2 separate regions of the Homo sapiens genome follow, and region 2 is linked to region 1. Evidence: fine-mapped expression QTL. A gene starts in region 1. The other region holds a variant in brackets. All regions are shown on one strand. Distances are from middle to middle.

The links. PIP is the estimated chance that this variant, and not a neighbour inherited with it, causes the effect. A credible set is the group of variants that fine-mapping cannot tell apart.
Region 2: its variant is the best candidate, but not a certain one, in a credible set for the expression of RASAL2-AS1 in thyroid (GTEx, PIP 0.69).

Annotation. Positions count from the first base shown.
Region 1 is chr1:178,092,929-178,095,841 of GRCh38, forward strand. It overlaps RASAL2-AS1 (RASAL2 antisense RNA 1), which reads right to left and starts at 1,065. Exons shown (of 2, transcript NR_027982.1): 1 at 633-1,065; 2 at 1-484. RASAL2 (RAS protein activator like 2) reads left to right here and starts at 1,176. Exons shown (of 18, transcript NM_170692.4): 1 at 1,176-1,766. The coding sequence starts at 1,565. RefSeq lists an enhancer at 652-1,153 and silencers at 775-824, 875-1,174, 1,245-1,404, 1,555-1,614.
Region 2 is chr1:178,275,158-178,278,070 of GRCh38, forward strand. All of the region lies in intron 1 of RASAL2 (RAS protein activator like 2), which reads left to right. Among named protein-coding and RNA genes, the nearest start is that of RASAL2, 180 kb to the left of the region's middle. The variant G/A (reference allele first, on the strand shown) is at 1,331.

The DNA of each region.
Region 1 (2,913 bases):
AGATCTACTATGTCCAAGGCACGGTTTAAGTTATTACTGTTCAATTTTGAAATTATTATTGTTAACTTGTCAGTAATTTCTTAAACCTAAACTGGTGAAACTCTCCTTGGGTGGACATAAAAGTAAAGCCATGGCCAAGGAGGGAGACAGTCTACAAATAAACCAAAAATAAAATACAAGTGACATCATTAAAGGAAAAAAGCCAACACACTGCACAAAGATCAAAGACAAAACAGAGAAACATGTTTGGTTAATACTGGGCTTTGAGTATTTCATGTGCCTGAGAGGCCCGTCCGTCCATCCACACCACACTTCTTCACCATGCTGTTGCAAACCAATGACAAGTTCAGCTTCAGCGCGGACAGGGCGCAGGGCGCAGACCCTGTGCATATCCCAGAATCCCGGACCCACTGCCACTCCACTCTGGGAAGGAAGAAGGCGCTCCCCCTTGGGTGACTGTAAGATAAAGCAGCTTCTTCGATCTCTTTGTCCAATAAGAAAGAAACGTTGGCCCATAAAGAAAGAAAGAAACAAATAAATAGGAAAGGTGTGAGAAGGAAGGGAAGCTCCTTTCTTTTCTGTTTAAATTTCCCGCACCCTTTTACCTCCCCGCCTTCTCAAACGGTCTTTACTTTGAGCAGCAGAGACCCGGACCGCTCAATACCCGGCTATCCCTGGGAGGGTACTTGGAAAGTAGGCGGGACAGGCCGGATGAATAATTCGGTGTCCGACTTTTCCTGCCTGCGGCGCAGTCCCTCCCCGGCTTCGTTACTCGAGTGCACACGCGGCCGGGCTCTCGGCCCTCGATTGCTTCAGCCTATCACCCTGGGATGCCGCCTGCCGCTGCCGCCGCCGCCGCCGCCGCCACCGCCACCGCCACCGCCACCGCCACCGCCGTGGCTGCCGGGTTTGTGGGATCCGCCGCGGAGCAGGAGCCAGAGCTGTGGCCGGAGCTGTGGCCTGAGAGTCAGGGGGCGGGCAGGCTCATTCCAGAAGTGGGGGCCGAGGACAGGCGGGCTAGAACCCGGGGCCACCGCCCCCTACCCCTCCTCAGGCTGAGGGAACGGGCACTCGGAGCTTCTGAGGCGGCGGCGGCGGGAGCCGGTCAGAGGGGGCGGCCCCTGGCGGCGACGCCCCCAAGCCCAGCCCTGCCCGGCCCCGCTCCATCCCCAGCCAGAGCCTGGTCTGACCGCGAGAGACGCCGGCGGGGCTGAAGAAGGCGGCTCCGAGGAGGTGGGAGGGCGAGCCTCCCCTCCCGGGTTCTTCTGCGTCCTCTCCCGGGAGGGACCCACACACACCTGAGCCCGGACCCACCCTTGGTCGGGGCCACGCTGGATCCTCCTCCCGGCCTGGGTCCCGCCCGCCGACTGCAGGTGGGCTGCATCGCCCGAGCCTCGGGCAGTGGGCGACGGGGAAGGAGGTGAGAGGTGTCCGCGCCGGCTGCCGCTCGGGTCCCTGCCCTCGCTGCGCGCTCTCCTCCTCCCCTTACCGCAGGCAGGGCGCGGAGCCGCGCGCCAGCCCGCCCCGAAGCCGCCGCCTCGTCCCCCTCCCGCCTCGGGGCACCATGGAGCTCTCTCCGTCGTCCGGAGGAGCCGCGGAGGCGCTGTCCTGGCCGGAGATGTTCCCGGCGCTGGAGTCCGACTCGCCGCTGCCCCCGGAGGACCTGGACGCGGTTGTCCCAGTCAGTGGAGCCGTCGCCGGTGGCATGTTGGATCGGATCCTTCTGGAGTCCGTGTGCCAGCAACAGAGCTGGGTCCGGGTGTACGGTAAGGACCACAGGCCGTCTTAGAGGCTGGTGTTTCCTATTTTTGCTTGGGCTGAAATTCATTCCCTAAGTCACAGGCTCATTCCCAGTCCTCATCCGTGCTAGGTCAGTTTCCCACATCCCTTTTTGTTCTGGGGGTGCATTTCTGACAAGTTTCTTCAGACTATCACTTGGGCAGGGATGTCACTCAGTATGGTCTTTGGACCTCTTCAGACACCTGCAGTAAGTTTAATGCGGGAGTTGGGCTATCCAAGACGTAATTCTTAGGCGATTACTTCAAGGGAACAGCCAGGCAATCAATCTTCAAGAAGGTATGATGGAAAAACTCCATGAAACCAAGTGAATGGATTTTCGTCTCTTTTTATTGTTGAATGAGGCAAGACTGGAAACCAAGATATTATGAAAAAGCAGAGGATAAGCTAATGAATGAAAAAAATGCAAACTATGTATTTGGTGGGAGCAAGACTAATCTATAACCTCTGCCTGAACCTCACTCTCTCTAAAAGCAACCACTTATTCCAACGGGTGTGGATTGTTTCAGATTACACTATTGTTTCTGAATCTCGTTGTAAAGTGACTGGGTTGCCACTCAGCAGGTTAAAAGTGATGAACACACTAAAACTTTCCCTTTCTGCATTCCTGGTAACCACCTCTTTAATTAAAACTGAATGATGAGATTCTATTAGGGTGAGCCTTGTGGCAGCACTAAAACCATGCTGGTTTTGAAAACTCATAGCTTAAGGATTTATAGCCTGGCATTCAGGACTGAGCTGTGGCTTTCCAAAATATTGAAACGGCAAGATGTTTATCGCCTAGCTCACGTGACTGCAGAAGACATTAGTAACGTGGCTGAGTATAAGATGGCAAATTTGAAGCACCTGGGATCAAACACAATGTTAAGATGTTATCCTGCAGTCTTGTGCATCTAAGCCTGTAGTGATCAAGTACCTTATGTTTTTTTCTTTCATCTTTCTGAACAGGGTATATGCTTACTATTCAAGAGTGACCAAGACTTAGGTTTTTTTCTGTGTAGTTCAGTTGATTTGAAGACTTAATGTCCATCGCAAAGATCATAGAACTAGGAGTCCAGAGATCTCAGTTCTTGTCTCAGTTCTACCACTAAATGGCTATGGGATTTGGGGCAGATC
Region 2 (2,913 bases), 180 kb after region 1:
ACTTGGCTTAATGTGGAAATTAAGGGACTTACCTCTTTTAAGAGACTGGGTTGTGCTGTGTTGCCCCGGTTTGAATGCAGTGGCTATTGAGAGCACAGTCATGCACCCTACAGCTTTGATCTTCTGAGCTCAAGTGATCTCAGCTCCCAAGTAGCTGGGACTATAGAGGCATGCCCTGATATCCCAGCAGGACTTATTTCTTCAAGTGCATATTTAAGAAGTGGAAGAAAACTATATGATCTGCTTTGTTTGCATTTCACGGCACATGTGATCAGGACAGTGCAAACTGTTGTAGTGATGTGGAAGGGAGAAGCAAGGTAGAACTATCATAGGAATTGTTCCCCATCCTTACCATCTTCTTAAAATAAGTAATGGCACCAAACTAAAATGAGCTCTTCTATAGAGAAGTGTTACCTTTATCAAATATCAAGTTGTCTGCCATAAATAAGTCATGCCTTCAAGGAATTTATTACTTTTTTACCAGATAACTCACTCTGACCTGTGATAGAGCAGAGTTAGAACATTCATGCTGAACTGTGATGCAGCTGAGACTGAGAGGGAAGCAGCAGCAGAACTCTGCAAATGTTAGACTAAAGGAAATTACTCACCAGAGAGAAGTATCACATGTTATCTCTTTCCTGCTCTCTCCTTCTCTTAACAAGGGTGATAATGAGCATAGTGGATTTACTAACTAGACACCAGTGATCAAGTAGGTCGGAAATTAAGCCTTTGTAGTTGACAAGGAAACTAAAGTGGTTAGCTAAGGTTAAAAGACACAATATAAATTTATTTCGGCAAATAGTTGTGGTCTCATAGTAAATTTATGGTAATGTAAGGATTAAGACTTGTATTTCCATGAAGGCAACCATTTCTGACCTAATGACTATATCTTAAACATATTGAATGATTACTTAGTATCCATATTACTCATCAAGGTACGAGGGTGGCCATATTTAAATCCACTGAGGCCATTTATTTGTATGAACTATAATATAATTTGCCAGCCCAAATGTTCATTGTGTGTCAGGACAAAGCAAAGTTCACAGGTACTGTGTGTTGGGTGGTTATCAGTCTAAGAAAATTTTTGTTTGTTGTTCTGGAAATGTTATTTTCTGACATTTTGACAGAATATAGAGGGTGGGAAGGTAATGAAGGGATAAAATAAGTAAAATTAAACTTTACTTTAAGTGACCTGACTGGATTTTCCTTTCCTTTTGTACTTTAAGAATGAAAGAGAGTGACTTAGTTGATGGGAACTACACTAGGTCTTAAGCAGACAACATTAATACATTTATAAAATAATTTGAGCATAAATCTGCAGTATATTGTG[G/A]ACTACTCCTCAACCACATTACAATTTTTTTGTTTTTTTTTTTGAGACAAGGTGTTATTCTGTTGCCCAGGCAGAGTACAGTGGTGTGATCATGGCCCACTGCAGCCTTGACTTCCTGGGCTCAAGTGATCCTCCTGCCTTAGCCTCCCAAACTGCTGGGGTTACAGGCATGAGCCACTGTGCCCAGCCTGTTACAGTTATTGACATTGTTAAGAATCATCTCCACGTAACAACTCTAACATTATTTCTTCTATTATATCAGAAATTGTCTATAGAAGATAGCCATGTGTATGCCATATTTTTAAATCTGCATGTCAGGGGCAAGGATTTTATTGTTTATTAAAAAAATAAAGAACTGCCTTTTAAAAAATAGCTTGTTGGCCGGGCACAGTGGCTCATGCCTGTAATCCCAGCACTTTGGGAGGCCGAGGCTGGCGGATCACAAGGTCAGGAGATTTAGATCATCCTGGCTAACACGGTAAAACCCCATCTCTACTAAAAATAGAAAAAATTAGCCAGGTGTGGTGGCGGTCGCCTGTAGTCTCAGCTACTCGGGAGGCTGAGGCAGGAGAATGGCGTGAACCTGCGAGGCAGAGCTTGCCGTGAGCTGAGATCGCGCCACTGCACTCCAGCCTGGGCGACAGAGTGAGATTCCCTCTCAAAAAAAAAAAAAAAAAAAAAAACCAAAAACTTGTTAATTGGCCTATTAATATGATATTAAACATGAATGCCTGTTAAAACTGTTGTGAACATGTTGATGAAAAGAAAAAATGCAATCCTCCCACCTCAGCTTCCCAAGTAGCTGGGACTACAGGCACGCACCACCATGCCTGGCTGATTTTTGTATTTTTTGTAGAGATGAGGTCTCACTGTGTTGACCAGGCTAGCCTCAAACTTCTGAGTTCAAGTGATCCACCCACCTTGGCCTCCCAAAGTGCTGGGATTATAGGCGTGAGCCACCGTTCCTGGCCAGATGTTTTTGCTTCTGTAATAAAGTGATCACTTTAATTCTTAGCTTTTATGAAGTAATACTTTTTGACTTTGGGTTCAAAGCCAAAACAAATCTGGTCATTGAAATTTCAGAGTTGCGAAGAATTTGCCATTTCTAAGCCAGGTTAGCTGTGGTGTGGAAATGAAAATGTATGTATAGATACAGGAAAATACAGATCTATCCTTCCACAACAGTTCAGACTTCTGCAGTTTACACCAATTATCTGTTGGGAATATGTTTCTCTTTTAGTGTATTAAGACCTTCCCTATTCAGATAGATTTCCCAAAACTATGCTGTTGTTATTTCTTTTTTTAGGTTGGCACTAAGATAGATGAAAGGCCCCTGAGACTGAATGAAACATTAGAGTTTGTATTAACTGGGAAGATTCTCTCTGTAGAATCCCTTTATAAAGCTTTCTCTGGAAGGCAGTAAATATTAATAGTGTTACAGTCTCACCAATGCAACACAGTGTAGTGTCTGTTATTGTGAGACATCACCCAGAGTTGTTTGTCTCATGACCAAGAGAATTAAGGAGCATGGTCACAAAGGGTGAGGTTGGAGCAAAAGTTTAATAAGCAAAAGAATGAAAGCT